Homo sapiens: one gene and its partners. The protein of the gene in region 3 purifies or fractionates together with the protein of the main gene of each other region. This does not show direct contact. Each region holds a gene or a part of one and is shown on either strand. Other genes may lie near its edges.

The links. The genes of interacting proteins can lie anywhere in the genome.
Region 1: the proteins of PM20D2 (region 3) and PRIM2 purify together in Homo sapiens (affinity purification with mass spectrometry; 2 studies listed by BioGRID and IntAct, with this or other methods). This does not show direct contact.
Region 2: the proteins of PM20D2 (region 3) and KIAA1671 purify together in Homo sapiens (affinity purification with mass spectrometry; 2 studies listed by BioGRID and IntAct, with this or other methods). This does not show direct contact.

Annotation. Positions count from the first base shown.
Region 1 is NC_000006.12:57,376,626-57,383,661, reverse strand, and holds part of PRIM2 (DNA primase large subunit), read right to left. Parts: intron 3,762-7,036; coding exon 3,666-3,761; intron 1,632-3,665; coding exon 1,494-1,631; intron 1-1,493. UniProt on the Homo sapiens protein: Regulatory subunit of the DNA primase complex and component of the DNA polymerase alpha complex (also known as the alpha DNA polymerase-primase complex) which play an essential role in the initiation of DNA synthesis.
Region 2 is NC_000022.11:24,947,762-24,955,747, reverse strand, and holds the start of KIAA1671 (uncharacterized protein KIAA1671), read right to left. Parts: upstream 3,033-7,986; 5' UTR 2,976-3,032; intron 1-2,975.
Region 3 is NC_000006.12:89,163,055-89,166,101, reverse strand, and holds the end of PM20D2 (xaa-Arg dipeptidase), read right to left. Parts: 3' UTR 537-3,047; downstream 1-536. UniProt on the Homo sapiens protein: Catalyzes the peptide bond hydrolysis in dipeptides having basic amino acids lysine, ornithine or arginine at C-terminus. Postulated to function in a metabolite repair mechanism by eliminating alternate dipeptide by-products formed during carnosine synthesis.

The DNA.
Region 1 (7,036 bases), about 32 Mb from region 3:
CCAGGCATCACATTCAGTTACAACAATATCCAGAGGGGGGAAAAAAAGACTACTTCATCCCACATGCCTTTTTTTTTTTTTTTTTTTAGCAAGAAAAACTTTTTTCAGGAGCCCCCAAAGAACTCATACTTTTTAGCCACAATGACATTGTCACAGGCATAAATTAAAAATTTGGTAAGAAGGAAATGACTATGATCAGATTAATAGTAGCATTAACATGCCAGAAGTTTTCTGAAATGCACGGTGATATTTTTGGTTGTCATGGAGACTGGGGTCCACCACCAGCATTTAATAGATGACAGCTAAAACTATCCAATATGCTGGAAAATATTTGTCTATTTCACACAAAGAAGTGTGGTCTAAAATGTCAACAGAGAGAATATGGGTGAATAAAACTAAGAATAATAAAAGAGCAATGGCCAAACAGTAGACAAGTATCAGTGTCTTCCACAGTGGTGAAAGACACTATTCTTAGCTGTAACTAGAATATAATCTAGGGTAGTGACAGACAAGTAAAGAAAAAATTTAAAAGCATCAACTTTCATGAGGATAAAGAAATAACAGGATTAGGAATGGAGAAAGAATATTAACAGTTACTAAATACCTGTTATGCTAGGTGTTCTCATAAATTCCTTCATTTAATAAACACAGAGTTAGTATTTTAGTCTTCCCAAGTGCTGACATAGCTAAATTATACATATTTAGGTAACCCCAGAGAGTCAATAAAAATTTATTTATATCAGAAAATACTACAATTTTTAACTGAGAAGGAAAGCTTGGCATATGCTTACACTATAATCAGTACAGTTTAAAACAGCCATGTCACAAACCTTTGAAGTCTTCTTCTGCATTAGGTACAAAAAAAGTATTAAAAACTGACTCAGATTAAGAGACAACAACTGTAAAATATGTGTTTTACATATAAAAATGTGTATAGTTTTAAGATATCACCACTTAAGAGTCACACTTCCAACAAACTACTTAAAAATCACTGATCATGTCATTTGTTCAACACAGCTACCTCCAAATTCACCCAGTATGGAGCTACTCATTGCAGCACTAGCATATCACAGTGTTAGTACTTAAGATTTTCTTCTATATTGTCTTCTACTGATACCAAATACTAATTCAGAACAGAAATCTAGGAGTTATATCTACCACAGGCCACACTAATTGTTAAGAGCCATATACGAAGTCTATTTCTAAGGAAAAAAGACATGACCATGAAGAAACCCACAGAGGTTACTCACAAAATTAATCACTCAGCATTGGTATTAGTAGGATCAAGAAAAAAAACTTAAAAACCAACTATGGATAGTAACAAATAAAAACCTAGGAATTTTGGGATTAACAGTACAACATCATATGTAATCTGAATATCATTATGAAAACTGAATTAACTTATTTCCTAGAGAAACACAGAATAAAACTACCAGGGGTATATAACTGAAAGTGTGAACATGTCAGATACAGAAATCAAGTAAAATACTCACTGCCAAAGCCTTGGACAGTTTGGCTCTAAATTCATTCAGGATGATTGCCACAATGTCCTTAAGTGGTACGTAAGCAAAGCCATCTTCCAAATAGACTTTCCTTCCTCGAAACAAATCCAGAGCATCAGCAAAAGGGATCTGAATTAAGAGTAAAACAGGCAAAATAAGTCAGCACCTGTCATTAAGAAATCCTAAGTCTTCATATGTATAAAGTATAAACAAAGAAATTCATTAGTCCTAGCAGAGCCAAAAGAATATCAAAATGATTAATTTATCCTCCTTAAAACTCAACAGCATTAGCAAACAGTGGCAGTACAAAAATATGTTCGTTTCAGAGTTGATGTTTTGAAAAATAGTAACACTAAAAGGCCAAGTTGGAATGCTTACTTTTATTCCTTAACCTCTGAATTTACAAAACATAATCCCCAGGATTTCAAACTCTTAACTCAAGACTTCTACACATGTTGCATTCACCTCACATATCCCACTTTGTATTCTGCATCAGAGAGAATCCTAATTTGTAAACAACATATTCAGAGCTGAAAATTACTTGTAAGTAAATTCCAATTTCTTCATGTATGTTTCCATTCTCACTCCAGAGAAATATACTGAAAAAGCTAATCTCAGTACTAAGAAATGGAAATAATAAGCATTCAGTTTTGCTATTAAAAGAAGTATTTGCCCCAAGAATTTATTTTTAAAAATCTTAGATTTTTAAACCCTATGAACAATCTTAAAATTCTAAGAGATGAGCGAAGTATGATATTAGTAAACTGTAAAAATCATTCTTACTCTCCAATAGAATTTTTCTTTTTTAAAAAACGAGGTTAAAAAATTAGGTGAAAAATGATTCCCAAATTGCCTATTCATTCAAGTTTTAAGGAAGAATTAAATATAAATGCATACAATTTTCTGTATATCCAACGACATCTCACACTATAAACAGATCATGTGCTTTTTAACAACTTTCAATTAATTTACCTATTTCTACAACTGCAACACAGTCCCTGCCCTCATGGGCACACACGGAAAGTCAAACAGACCTACAGGGTAAATTGTGTGATACTGCACCAAATAGGTAGCTTACATAGGACATATCAGATGAGCAGGTAAGAGGGTTTACTGCAATAATATAGGGAAGAAACATGAGTTCTAGTCCAAGCTCTGATACTGACTAGACTTATTTGGTGAATTTAATGAATGCCTCTAAATCTCAGCAGCCAGATCTGTAAAGCTGAGAGAGGGGAGGAAGACACAGGCTAACTGACCCTTAGGGATTCTTTAGCCATAGTATTTCATGATTCTAGCTTATTAAGGTGGTCACAGTGGAAACAAAAATGCCCAAGTAGAAGCAAAAGATGATGTGAAGGCAGAGTAACTGGAAATGTGTGGTGTAAGAGAAATAAATATTGATCACCACACTCTAGGCTTGAAAGGCTGACTGAATGATGGCCCAACAGTCGAAACGAAGAAGCTGGAATGGGGCAGGACTTTAAACTACTGGCACTCACTCATAATAATTAGCACATTCTTTTCAAAGGAAATTGTGGGGTTGCAGTTATCAAATTGTAAAATGAATTTAAACTCTTCCCTCTTCCCCTTCTGGAAGGGTTCATGTGACGTAGTTATCTGAACTGAGTGGGGAGGGGAAACTGAGGTGGCCAAGCACAGGATGATGGAATCTGAGTAGGTTAAGGAGGGCATTCCCATAGGAAAAAACGTAGGCTTACAATGTCAGAGCCCAGTGGAATCACAGAGAGACCATGAGGCAAGACACCACGATGTCAGAGGTCAAGAGAAGCGAAAGGGGGCTTCCACGCAAGGCAGCAATCCAAACAGAGTGTTGGGCCAAATGGGTGATGAGGGTTTCCTGGCAGGGGATAGCCCAGTGCAGGGTGTAAGAACCCAAACAATGCAAGGAGGGTATTCCATTAGGAAAACAGCCTGTAATGGGAGGTCAGAGCCCAAGCAGGGTTGGGAATGCGTCCGTGGAAGGAGACAGCCCAGGAGAGAACATTGGCACACCATTAGTGCAATGAGGACAGTATCTGTGCAGGAGACAGAGTAGCTGTGATGATGAGAGGCTATAAAAATGGATTAATTAAATATGTATATAAAGCTCAATGCGACATATTTAACAAAACCTAGGAAGTATTTTACATGTTTACATACCTTATAAATGGACTCGAACCCCAACTTAAGTCCACTTAAACTTGGTGATGAGGCAACAATCTCCTGTTCTCGAAGAGTCTTCTCTTCATCACTTATCTAAAAAAACATATTTTAAGCTGTTACAAAAATTTGAAGTCCTCATTCAGTTTCAATAAAATGATTTCCTGTTTTAATGAATACTGTTTACTTTTATTAAAAATTTTAAAACCTTGATATCTCAAATCATTTCTAACATGATATCTGAATCACTATCATTAGTGAAGGCAAAATACAGAAAAAAACCTAAATTGAATATTCTTTCAAATTTCAACCCTGCCAATTTCTGAAGGTATACATCAAAAGAACAGTAGCAGACAAAGAGAAAATATTTTAATGAGAAAAAGGAAAAAACTTATCATAAAAACTCAGGTTAATATAGACTAAAAATGAGCATTATCCTAATTTGAGTTATGTTAATATATTAAAATATCCTAATTGAGGTTAGAGTGGTTTGACTATTTCTCAATTTTCTAGCCACATAAGACAATTCCAAACTTAAAACACTAGTTTTTCTAGGAACAACTATAAATTTATTATCTCAGACTGATTATGGCTTTATAAAAAATTGATAGATCTGATTAGTACAAGCGTTAAACTTCTATACCAAAACATATATATATTTTTGTAAATGAAGATGAAATATAAGTGACAAACTGAGGGAAATATTTACATCATCTGATGTGTGAGTTAGCCTCAGTAAGCCCCTAGTTGGCAGTATGTAAGCTTTCATAACCCAAAAGTAGTAAAACATGAACAGCCAATAGTTATATAAGTAAAAATAATAAATGCTAAATTAAAATAATAATGTGTACTATTTTCCATCTATCAAAATGGTAAAAGTTAAAAAGATTTAGAATACACAGTGTTAGGACAATCTTTGTGTACCATACTTTGATAATACATATCAAATAGCCTTTAAAAATGCAGATTGTAACTATTTTATTTTCAGATTAATCACAAGTAAATAACAGGACAAGCACACAAATAAAAACGTTTCTTTATTACAGTGTTATTTATAATAATAAAGAAAAAAACTAAATGTCCAACATGTATCTAGTTAAACAAACTGCAGTAGAACTTGCTGTTTCAGTAAAACAGGCTATATTATTTGGGTCAACCTCCTAGAGAAAACAAAACAAAACAAAACACTGATAAAATTTTTAAAACATCTTTACAGCACAGAAAGTTAATATACAAAGTCAGGCCCACACAAAGTGGGATATCTGACGAGAGACCTTCCTGCTCAAATGATGTAGGATATCAGGGAATCCCAAGCCTTGAACTTGTTTTAAGGCGGTACCTGATTCAAATGCCCAGGCACCTCGCAAAAGCAAACTCAAATCCTCTCTGGAGGAACCTTCACATTACACCTCAAAGTATTCCTACAAATAAATTTCCAAATACAATGTCAAGCACGTTGTATTTTATAACAAGGTATAGAAAAAAACTATACTTCACGAACAAAAACAACAGGGAAGAATTCACAAAGTTTACAGATAATAACTATGCTACCATGTGTACAGAAATAAAAGACAAGCACAATCTGTATGAAGTGGAAACTATAAAAAGTGATTTTTTTTTTAAAAGCAAAAGGCTGGGCACGGTGGCTCACGTCTATAATCCCAGCACTTTTGGAGGCCAAGGCGGGAGGATCACTTGAATCCAGGAGTTTGAGACCAGCCTGGGCAACACGGTGAGACCCCATCTCTACAAAAAAAAAAATTAAAACATTAGCCAGGTATGGTGGTATACACTTGTTATCTCAGCTACTTGGGAGGCTAAGGTGGGAGGATTGCTTGAGCCCAGGAGTTAGAGGCTGCAGTAAGCCATGATCACATTACTGCACTCCAGTCTGGGTGACACAGCAAACCATTATCAAAAAAAAAAAAAAGAAGAAGAAGAAGAAAAAGCTTTCTGATGTGCTGTTTTACATCACTGAATGGAACCTGGGTTTTCATTAAAAAGGTTCCAAACACACAGTTTGTAGAATCTAAGAAATGACATTTCTGAGCCCGTTGAGCCCTTACAGGAACATACAAACATCCAGCCCTAAGACCTAAAATCAAGCAATGTGCACAAAACCTTTGTGATGTGTTGTTTTATATCACTAAATGAAACCTGTGTTTTATTAAACAGGTTCCAAACACACATTTAGATGAATGTAAGAAATGACATTTCAGAGATGATTAGGCCTATATAAGGAAAAAGAGGAAAAAGAAAAAAAAATTTCTAGAAATAGACAAAAAAAATTTAGGCACAGAAATTTAAAACTCAATGGAGTCAGGAAGAAACCCCTGAAATTCCTGTAGCTGTGAACAATTACTTGAGGATGAACCAGAACCTTATCAGCCTTCACATGGATCTACAACCCATTTTCAACTTATCTAGTGATTCTGAGATCTCAGATCCCAGATTTAAATTAAAATTAGCCTGGACCAGCAATGACCCCAGGCCAATGAAAAAAAAAAAACAAATGAAAACCCTTCCAGAAAGATATAATCCTCCTAAGCTTCAATATAGTCCACACATAACTTTCGAAACACAATCTCCAGCATACAACAGTAACAAAGCACACCAGGAAATGAGACTCCATGAATAAAAACAATATAGGTAAGAACAAAAAAGTATCAAGATTGAAAAAGAAGAACTAAAACTCTATTTGCAGATTATATGATTTAGTATACTTAGAAAATCCAGAAGTATCCACGACAAATTATTAAAACTATTGGCCTAATTGAGTCAGGTTTCTGGATTCAAATATAGAAAAACCGGCAGGGTGCGGTGACTCACACCTGTAATCCCAGCACTTCAGGAGGCTGAGGCGGGTGGATCATGAGGTCAGGAGTTTGAGACCAGCCTGGCCAACATGGTGAAACCCCATCTCTACTAAAGATACCAAAAAAAAAAAAAAAAATTAGCTGGGCATGGTGGTGCACGCCTGTAATCCCAGCTACTCAGGAGGGTGGGGAAGAAGAATTGCTTGAACCTGGAAGGTGGAGGTTGCGGTGAGCCAGATTGTGCCACTGCACTCCAGCCTGGGCGACAAGGCGAGACTCGGTCTCAAAAAATAAAAAATATAGAAAAACTAATTGTATTTCTATATGCCAGCAACAAAATTCAGTAAGGGAATTTTTTAAGCTACAATTTACAACAGAATTAAAACTATCAAGGATCTAGGAATAAATCTAACAAAATATGTGCAAGGCCTTCACCAACAAAAATATAAAATCTTAGAGAAACTGGAGAAAAATTAATTAACAGAGATACCCTAAACATCAACCAGAAAACTTAATATTGTAAATGTTTCAAATCTCTTCAAATTAACCTATAGA
Region 2 (7,986 bases), on a different chromosome or scaffold from region 3:
GGCCTCTCACCTGGATTTTTCTAGCAGCCTGCTTACTGGCCCCCAGCCTCCTGGCATGACCCTCCGATCATCCAGCCTCCCCACACCAGCCAGGGCAAGCTTCCCAAAACACACATCTGACCCTGCCCCTCACCTGCAGAGACCCTTCCACTGTGATCCACAGCGCCCCACGCTCCAGGAATAAAGTCCAAACCACTAAGCATGGCTGGCCTGGCCCCAGTCAACACCCTAGGCACTCACCTACCTCCAGGCTTCTGCACAAGCTATTCCATTTCTGCAGCCCATAACACCAACCTCTTCCCACTGGCTGTCGAGAAAACTAAACTCTCTGACCCGCATCCCTCCTTATAGCCAAAGGCATCAGCCCCTCCTCCTATGATCATAGTTCTCCCCTTCCAGACAAATGCATATGTTCACAAAGACTTTCAGGGCATAAAGTATCCCCTTAAGGATGTGGCTGCTAGCCTCATCTTTGACACAGTGTCTTGAAATATTTGTTGAAGGAACAAATGATAAATAAATGAATGAATGCACATATAAAATATCCCTGTGAGGCTCTGTTTCTGAGTTGGTCAGAGATGTAGCCTGGTGAGGAGAAATGCTCAGAGCCAGACAACTGGCTCCTTCATTCTCCTGCCAAGGTCAGCCTTCAATAAAAAACAGCCCCGGCCAGGCGCAGTGGCTCATGCCTGTAATCCTAGCACTTTGGGAGGCGGAGGCAGGAGGATCACCTAAGGTTAGGAGTTTGGGATCAGCCTGGCCAACATGGTGAAACCCTATCTCTACTAAAAATACAAAAATTAGCCGGGCAGAGTGGCGGGCATCTGTAATCCCAGCCACTCTGGAGGCTGAGGCCGGAGAATTGCTTGAACCCGGGAGGCAGAGGTCGCAGTGAGCCGAGATCGCGCCATTGCACTCTAGCCTGGGCTGCAGAGCGAGACTCCATCTCAAAAAACAAAATAAAACAAAACAAAACAAAACAAACGAAAAAAAGCAGCCCCTAGGACCTCCAGTGGGGGTAGGGGCAGCTTCCAGCCTCTGAACCTAGGGTGAGAACTGTATCCCCAACATCAAGAATCAGTACTAGACTGCAGGGCAAGCCGACTGCTCCATAGCTGGAAAGTAACTCCAAGAGGACAAATCCTGAGTTGCCCTAGGCCACACCATTTCTACAGTGCTCCTGACATAGGTGCTCAATACACGCTGGTTGATGGAGCCAGCCAGTTCATGTGCCCAGCTGAAATGTATGTCCAGACACTGCATTGAAACTCTGCACTTCTCTTGGGTAATTGCACCCTTGTCAAGCATGCAAATCCTTTAAAAAGGATCCCCCTGCCAGAACCACCAAGATCTGGGCTTGTGTCTGTACAAATTCCTCGGGAACTGTCCCTGGCTGCAACAGGAAGGAAGGAGGCGCCAGAGTCTGGGGGTGCACACGTTTGTCCAGGAACCTTGATGGATTAGCAGAGGGAAAGCCAGACCAAGGGAGAAGCTTTGTCCAAATGTCTTGGTTACTCATTAGCCAAACCTCAGAGCTTCTCTCTGCAAGGGGGGATCAGAGGGGCAATTAACCCATTTGGAAGAAAGGTTAAGCTAAATAGCTCTCTAATCCTGCGGTTTCAAAAGATAGCAAGTAGGGTTTCTGGAATCTTTAGATACTGTAAGGCAAGCACAGGGGATGGGGCACGGGAAAGGAGAGGCCATAGACTGAGGGAGGCACTGATACTTATAGAGCCCCTACCTGTTTCATACCCTTCATTCCGATCCATCCTAGGCCAAGCCCATTTTGCCCAGAGGGTCCCCATCTGGATTCAGATAGGTTAAGTGTTTTGCCCAAGGTCACAAAAAAGGTGCAAAGAAAGTGTTTTTCTTTGTGCAACAGGTACAGTCCTTTCCCTTCCAAAAGATAATGGCTGCTCCTGGCTAGAGAAAGTTCAGTCCCGGCAGGCAGGAAGCCCTAGCCACCTAGGCGTCGCGCGGTGGAGGTCACACGCCTGCTCCGGGACTGGACAAACAGCAGGGTTTTAAGGCGCGGCGTCCCCACTCCCAGGCGAGTTTGTGCCAGCAGGGTGTGAAAAGGTCAGGCTCGGGTGGGGGTCAACGAGCCGCTTCCCATCCCGAGGGCCCCACCCGTGAGCCCGGGTGGGCCGCGCCGCCATCGGGGCGGGGACCACGCGGGCCTGCCTGGTAACAGGGGGACTGAGGCTTAATCCCATCAGGGCGCCTCCGCCCTGGGAAGACGAGCGGAGGGGGGGCGCAGGCCAGGCCGAGAGGACGTGTCCGGAGCCTCCGCGTCCGAGGGGCCCCGCGCGCCGCCCCTCTCACGCCCCCCGAACCACCGCGCTGTCCTCCGGGCTCCCCTCGACCAGGGTTCCGTCTCGCTCGCCGCCCTTGCTTCCCACTTCCACCTCCGGGGCCTCCAACCCGCACAAATGTCCAGACCCTAGCAGCTCCAGGCTGAGTAACCCAGATCTCCAGCGATCCCTCAGCTCCTAGCCACGGGATCTCTCTGAATCCATTCCCAAGGCTCAGGCTGGCATGGGAGGAGATTGATCCTCTCGCTCCCAGTCTCGAATCACCCTTCGCCGTCACCCCTGACTGGGGATCCAGTGGGACCCCAGGCCTCCAGCGCCCGATCCCCTCCAGGGATCGACTCCCAAGTCGCCAACCAGGTGGCACGTGATCCATTGGTTGCCCTGTGCGGGATCTTCCCGCGGGATCCACTCTCAAGTCTCGGGAGACGGATTCCCCGGCTCCCAAACCGGGATCCTCCCTCCCTGCAGACCCGGAGTCTGGGGAAATCCTCCGGCTCCCCGCCTCTTCCCCGGCCAACTTTGCCAACTTTTCTCCCGGGGCCTCGGCCGGGCAGAAACTTGGCGGCCCTCGCCAGCCGCCGTCACCCCCAGCTACCTCGTCGGCCGGGGACAGGAGGCGGCCAGCCGGCCCCCACTGCCCGCAGCCGCTGCGCAACCTACCGTGGAGCCACCGCCAGCCCGCGCCGCGCCGCCACCTGCCCGCAGCCCGCGGCACCTGCCCTGGGAGCCCGCAGCCCCGCGCAGCCTAGCCTGCTGGGGGCGGGGCCTCGAGCGGGGACGCGCCCCCGTCACCATGGGAACTGCCGCCGGCCGCGCCTGCGCGGAGGGGAGCAGAGCAGGCAGGACCCGAGTCCGCAGTGGCGCCTGGGCCTGGGACCTCTCCGGCGGGTCAGAGGTCACGACTCGCTTGGACACCCCTGCCGGAAGCGCTCCCGCCCCTCGAGGCCCGACCCCGCTCTGTCCAATTGGGAACTTTGCTCCGGGTACCCTCCCGCGTTCCCTGGATGTTCCCCAGTCACCAGCCAGGATCCCCCGCCACCGGCACCGACCCGCTGCCCAGCCGGCGACCCCGAGAGCCTAATGCAACCCAGGATTTCAGGAGGCGCTCCATAAATGTGGGCCCACTGACTTGCCTGGGCTGCTGGTGCCGGCCCGGGGGCGGGCAAGGTCTGTGCGCGGTGCTGGCGCCTCCTCGCGCCAAGCAAGGGCACTGCACCTGAGAGTTCGCTGGAGCGCCTACTGTGTGCGCATCCTCCTGCCATTATGTTGTGGGTGTGAGTTGTGGGGTAATGGGTACAGGAACTTGTGGACAAGTTGAGAGAATCGTAGGAAGTCGCCTCTGAAAGAGAAAATACCTGTTCTGTTATCCGTTACTCATTTCATTCAGCAGATCTTTATTAAGCACCTATTGCATGCTGGGTGCTGGAGAACCCAGTGGTGGGCAGCTGGCAAAATCCAGGCTGTTGTGCAGCTTACAGATATTCAAACAAATAATTTCACGAGTATATCAAATTGAATCTGTGACATGTGCTCCTATGGGAAATGTACAGAGCATGAATAACTGGAGGACCTAAAATCAATGTGCCTTTATTATAAGCAAGATAGACCTCAATAAAAAAAGAGAAAGAAAAGGACATCACAGGCTGCGCACGGTGGCTTGTAATCCCAGCATTTTGGGAGGCCGAGGCGGGTGGATCACCTGAGGTCATGAGTTTGAGACCAGCCTGGCCAACGTGGTGAAACCTCGTCACTACTAAAAATTACAAAAATTAGCTGGGCGTGGTGGCGGATGCCTGTGATCCCAGCTACTCGGGAGGCTAAGGCAGGAGAATGGCTTGAACCCGGGAGGTGGAGATTGCAGTGAGCCAAGAGCGCGCCACTGCACTCCAGCCTGGACGACAGAGCAAGACTCCATCTCAAAAAAAAAAAAAAGAAAAAGACATCACATTGTGTGGCTTCAGGAGGATTGGTGGGGAGACTTCTTGCCTCATTTTGCTCTTAAATTGTTGGGTGTGTGTAAGAAACAAGGGTAGCTCCTGTTCTCCACACCGTTTGCACTGCAACCCTTTTGAAGGTCTGATCATCACCATCAGACCCAGGCAGGGTAAACCCTGTTTACCAAACAGCAGCCCGAGAACCCCCAACTGACTTGTGTACAGTGCTGGAACCCAGGAATTGGGGGGCAGAGGTCCCATGAGGTCTCATGTCTCAAGACATTCTCCTTATCATCTGGGTATCTTGAGTACAGTCATCAAAAGGATCAAACCCAGTTGCTTTTACAGACAACTACCACTTCCAGAGAGAAGTCTGTGAGTAGGAGACCAGGAACGGCTGGGTTGAAACTTAAAATCCTTCAAAATCCACGTAAGTCAGGCCTTTACATGACGTGTATGTTATACCAGCAAAGGAAAATCGTTGATTGTCTGCTCTTCTCTCTAGACCTCCTGGAGGAAGGGACTTCTGTCTGTCTTTCACCTCCGATTCCCAGTGCCTAGAACAGGGCTTGGCACACAATAGGTGCTCAAAGAATGTATGCTGAGTGCATGAATGACCAACAGCTGATGACATGCCATCTGCTGCCCCTCCTCCCTAACCTTATGGGAACTTCCTGTCTCTCCTGGGCAAATCTCCATGAACCAGAATGCGTAGGCTGGGGGTTCTGTTCAATGGAATGTTCCATGTTTCTCAGCTCCCCAGCCAATGCAGGCTTCCACCTTGGCATCGCCTCTCCATTCCAGAACATAAGGATGGGAGGGGACAAGATAGTCCTCCTCCTGCCACCCCCCATGGAGACTCAAACCCAGACACGTCCCCAGCCCTGACCATCAACCCTACTCTCTGCCCCAAGAGATGCCCAGCCCAGACCGGGTGTCAGCTCTTCTATCCCTGTCAAGCTTTAAGGGGATTCCAGAGGTGCTGAACTACAACTCCCAGAGTCCTCCTGAACCTGGACCCAGAAGGGGCAGGACTTCCTGGTCAGCCCCCACCTTAGCTGGTTCCCCCTGCATTCCTGTGTCTTCCCGCCTAGGTGAGAGATGCCAGCTCGCACATACCCAGAGGTAGACCCTGACCAAAGAGGTGTCAGGTAGTACAGTTTCCGGAGGCAACACCCCTCCCTCCCCCAACCTCACCACTCCCAGCCCTGGCTTTTCTTTTTCTAAGAATAGAGCACAGTGCTTCCCAGGGATTTTCCCAGAACCCTTTCTTCGCAGTCTTTTGTCCCCTCCTCCAGAAGGTCCTGATTAGCCTGTGTCAGCTCTGTCCAATAGAACTTTCTGCAACGATGGAGATGTTCTATATCTGCACTGTCCAACATTAGCCACAGATGACTATTGAGCACTTAAAATGAGGTCAGGGAGACTGAGGAACTAAGTTTTACATTTTATTTAATTTTAATTAGTATAAATTTTAAAATCCACACGTGGCCCTGGCTACCATATTGGACAGTATAGCTCTACACCCCACACACCCCTTGCAAAGACCATGTTCATGCATTTTCGTTGGTGCATATTTATCCATTTTGTTTTTCCTAAAATTTATCTGCATGTTGAGTGTGAGAGCCGGTATGTTCTTTGAAATGTTTTCCCTCAACACTAGTCCTATGCCCATGCCATTACCCCCACCAGGAAGTCTTTGCCCTCTGCCTCCCCATCATCTAGTTAACAACTAAATGTCCCTCAGATCTTAGCTTCTACATCAGTTCCTCTAAGAAGCCATCCCCAACCACCAAAACTGATTAGATGTTGCAGAATCTGGGGCTGGTGCCCGCACTCATTAAAGTTCTGATCACACTGTAGTGTAATTGCCCAATTACTTTTCACTCACTTTCTAGGCTGTGAGGTCCTTGTGGGAAGAGACTAGCATAGTACCTGAAACAGAGTTGTCACCCAATAAATATTCATGAAGTTCAATGTTGCATAAATGTTTTCACATGCTGGAATCCAGCGTTTGGTTCACGGTAATGATACTAATGAAGGCTATCATTTATTCAGCCAAATATTTTGCCTGTGCTATCTCATTAAACTCCACAACAACCTATAAGACGTGCTCTATTATTATTATTACTTAATTTTTTTCGAGACAGTCCCGCTCTGTCGTCCAGGCTGGAGTGCAGTAGCACAATCTTGGCTCACTACACAGCCTCGCCCTCCTGGGCTCAAGCCATCCTCCCGCCTCAGGCTCCCGAGCAGCTGGGACTACAGGCATGCGCTACCATGCTTGGCTAATTTTTGTGTTTTTGTAGAGATGGGATTTTGCCATGTTGCCCAGGCTGGTTTTGAACTCCTTGTTCAAGCGATTCACCCACATCAATCTCCCAAAGTGCTAGGGTTACAAGTATGAGCCACTGTGCCCCGCTGAGATGCTCTATTATTATCTACCTTTTACAGATGAAGGATCTGAAGCTCAGAGAGGTTAAGTAAGTTGCCCAAGGTCACACAGCTAGTATTTCAGCCTGGCTCCCTGGAAAACAGAGCCCAAGGAAAATTTTATGTACTAATGCTTTATTAGGGATAAAATTCCAGCTCAGTAAGGGTGAAGGGAAGGGGACTTCAAGGCAAGGGAGGAGGGAGAGCAAATATAAGACATGCCTTACTAGGCTGGCTACAGAAGCCACGTGAAACAGACCATGGAAGGAATGAAGGAAGCGCGAGGACTTCATCGGCTGGCGCCTCCCATCCTCTGTCCACGATTAGTCACTGTTGGGCCCAACTGTGTTATCTGTGCCTCCAGACAGCCCCAAGGGAAGCCAATTCCATACACAGGGCTTCACCTGAGCCTAGAAGAGGAGGGTCCAGGGCTCCCTCCCTTGAAGCAGGTCAGGTCTGCTTGAATGACAGCGGGAGATGCAGGCCTAGGTGGCTAAGTAGATGCAGCAACTGACCCAAGCCGCCTGCAGGCGGAAGCAAGAGGAGGCTTGATCTTGTCCAGAGCTGCTGGCTGGCTGGGAAGGACGCAGCTGAGCACACCTGAGAAGGTGCATCAGTCAAGCCTGATACAGCGAGTAAACATCACAACTGAAATCCAAATCCAGTTTAGGCTAACTCCAGTGCCCTTCAACACATATTGATTGAAAGGGGAAAAATGAATATATGAATGATTGAATGAGTGACTGGGGAAAAAACCCAGGCAGCCACCACTCCAGACGCCCTCATTTTACAGGTAGAGAAACTGAGGCCAAGGAGGCAGTGATGCCCCAACTCAGGTCACACTGACTGAGGCGGCAGAGCTGGGACTTGAATGAAGCCTGAGACACGGCTTCACTGAGATTTTCTGCCTCTAACTGGCTGGGAACCTCCTGCTTCTGGCAATACCAACTGCCAGGTGCTCATTCGTTAATCTACAGGGAAAAGCTCGCATTTCCTGTGCACCGAGACGATGTCTTTTGTTCTCACCTTCCTAGCAGCCATCTCCCCTCTGCCAACAGCATCTCCGTTTTCCTCCAGGGAAGAATCCCACCCGCTACACTCAGTCCATGTCGTTTCAAGGGCGGTAAGCCTCGCGACACCCTTACTTGATCCTCACTTTCCAAACCTTAACCCCCAACCCTAGGACACAGGATGTAGGTCTGGCCAATCAGAGCATCCCATTTGCCTGGCCACAGTGATTGATTCGTGGTAGGCATGGGACCCAAGTTTGTCCATTGAGTGTTAATCACAGCACTTGCTGCAAT
Region 3 (3,047 bases):
GCTGAGGCAGGATTGCTTGAGCCTAGAAGATGAGGCTTCAGTGAGCCATGATCACAACACTGACTGTACTCCAGCCGGGGTGACAGTGAGAACCTGTCTCCAAAAATAAGAATAAAAATTAAAAACCAGTTTAAACAAAGAAACATGGACATTTGTGACTTTTCTCATATGAGGCACTTATACTTTAGCCAGGATCCAAAAACCTGTTCCATTGCATTTATGTTATTATATGGAATTACTCTGTATTAAATGTGTAAACTTTTTTTAAAAAAGGAAACTCAATACTATATGTATTTACCTCCTGCCATGTACAATTTGCACTGCAATTTTTTAGCTTCTGAGACTAGTGAAACATTCATTTTTAAACAAAAGAACTTAATTGTTCTTTTAAAATATTTGACACATAGTGGAAAAGCAAGTCAACATCTATGATACTGATGCGTAAGAAAAAGTATAGTATATCACAATGGATTTGGATGATTGTGCTTCATCTTCGTACATATATCTTCAGGTCATTAAAAAAGCAAGACAATTGCTATCAGATAAACATGTTTATTGTAGATTTTTCATACACATTTTATGTACCTATTATTACAAAAAAGCTTATAATCTGATGGTAGTAGACTGATTGCTTACTTGAAAATATTAACTTCATACATATCAAAATACACCATCCTCAACTATATAATTGGACTGCAAAATGCTTGATATGAAGTATGTAAAAAAATAAGCAGTTTATTATACCTTACAACCTTATAAAGGGTTGCTATCTAGTACAAAGATAACATTTATCTTATAACAAAAATTTGATAGTTTTAAAGGTTAGTATTGTGTAGGGTATTTTCCAAAAGACTAAAGAGATAACTCAGGTAAAAAGTTAGAAATGTATAAAACACCATCAGACAGGTTTTTAAAAAACAACATATTACAAAATTAGACAATCATCCTTAAAAAAAAAAACTTATTGTATCAATTTCTTTTGTTCAAAATGACTGACTTAAGTATTTTTAAATATTTCAGAAACACTTCCTCAAAAATTTTCAAGATGGTAGCTTTCAGATGTTCCCTCAGTCCCAATGTTGCTCAGATAAATAAATCTCGTGAGAACTTACCACCCACCACAAGCTTTCTGGGGCATGCAACAGTGTCTTTTCTTTTCTTTTTTTTTTTTTTTTTTTTACAGGCACAGAAACTCATCAATTTTATTTGGATAACAAAGGGTCTCCAAATTATATTGAAAAATAAATCCAAGTTAATATCACTCTTGTAAAAAAGTTGAGCACACTTTTCACAAACAATTTATGTAAAAGAGAAGAAAATACACATAATTTTACATAATATCTTAAACTCTTTTATTCCCTACCATAGACATTTTGTCTTGTTTTCTTTCAGTTTTCTACAATTTCCAACTTGTACCTGTGTTTAATACTGCTTTAGTGTGCTAAAGACATTAACTGATTGCTTTCCTAAATCTAAGGATTATATAGTTTTAGTATAAATATATATCATATATTTTCGTAAAACTTTGACAAAACCAAATAAGCAAGCCTTGTTTTAAGTCCACGCTCCTGCCACTGTTTACAAAATTTGATTTAATGATCAAAAAACTATTGGTTGTCACTCTTCTGTTACAACAATCTTCCTTGTGAACTGCCACCCAGTTTTTACATAATAATAACAAGCAATAGAAAAACCAAAGAAATTATGTTAATCTTAGCTCTTCCTTTGCAAGTGTCTTTTCTTCTTACACCCAGTGCTTAGAAATAGGCACTCCTCAACCAGTGTTCACTGAATTCAACTGCTGAAATTGTAACAGTTAAATTATCAACACAACTCTTAATAAATAAACATTCCTTTGGGAAATTGTGGGAAATCAAAACACTTTTAAGTTTATACAAGTATTCATAAACATAAAATATTCTAGTTTATCCTAATGCCCTAGCTCTTATGAGTGCTATAGAGGCAATTAAAAAGGGAAAATTTCTTGAGTAGTTCACATGTGGAGAATTTGTTAAAACCGAAAAGCAGTCCAAAATTTTTAAAAGGCATACTAAATATTAGCTATACTCACTATTACATGGTATATAGCAATTTAGTAATTCATAGTACCACATATTTTACTTTAAAAGCAGGTCCCATATTAAGGCCTGCTTTTAAAATTGCCACTAAAAAGAAAATATTTTCAATTTGTATATTTAAACCATTAATTTAGATAACATCTTTTAAAGTCTACAAATTTAACATAGCCAAGAGTTGGTATTTGAGAAAAAGGTTTCAGTACAGGGTGTGAACAATGAAAAATTATAAAGGCATGTAATAAAAATGTTCCATAAAAACAAAGATACCTCAAGCAGGTCCACCTATACCTCTAGTTTAGTTTAGAAACTAATTCAGTATTTTAAGAATCATATAATTTTAAACTTTGCACTAAGCCTAACCTTTTTAAAAAATGGTCAGGGCCAGGTGCAGTGCCTCAAGCCTGTAATCCCAGTGCTTTAGGAGGCTGAGGTGGGAGGACTGCTTGAGTCCAGGAGTTCGAGACTGCAGTGAGCTGTGATTACACCACTGCACTCCAGCCTGGGAGAGCAAGAACCTGCCCATTAAAAAACCAAACAAAAATGGGCAGGTGTGGTGTCTCATACCTGAAATCCCAACACTTTGGGAGGCCAAGACAGGAGGATTGCTTGAGCCCAGGAGTTTGAGGCCAGCCTGGAAGCTACAGCGAGCCCCTGTCTCTATTATGTAAAAAAATAAAAATTTTTTTAAAAAAGAGGTTTTCTTATGTGTACCTGAAGCAAAGTAGTAAGTATATCTTTTCTTCTCCACGTTGTACAAGAGATGACTGTAAACACAAAATTAAAACTCATCTTAGGATCATGGTCCATCCACGAAGCTACTTTAAACTCTGATGATTCCAAGCAAGGAAGCAATATTTGCTTATTCAAAAAGTACTGAATATTCAGAGTAAGCAATATGCTAGATACTGTAACAATTTAAAAATACCAACACACATGTGTATTAAAAAGACACTGGCAGGCCGGGTGCGG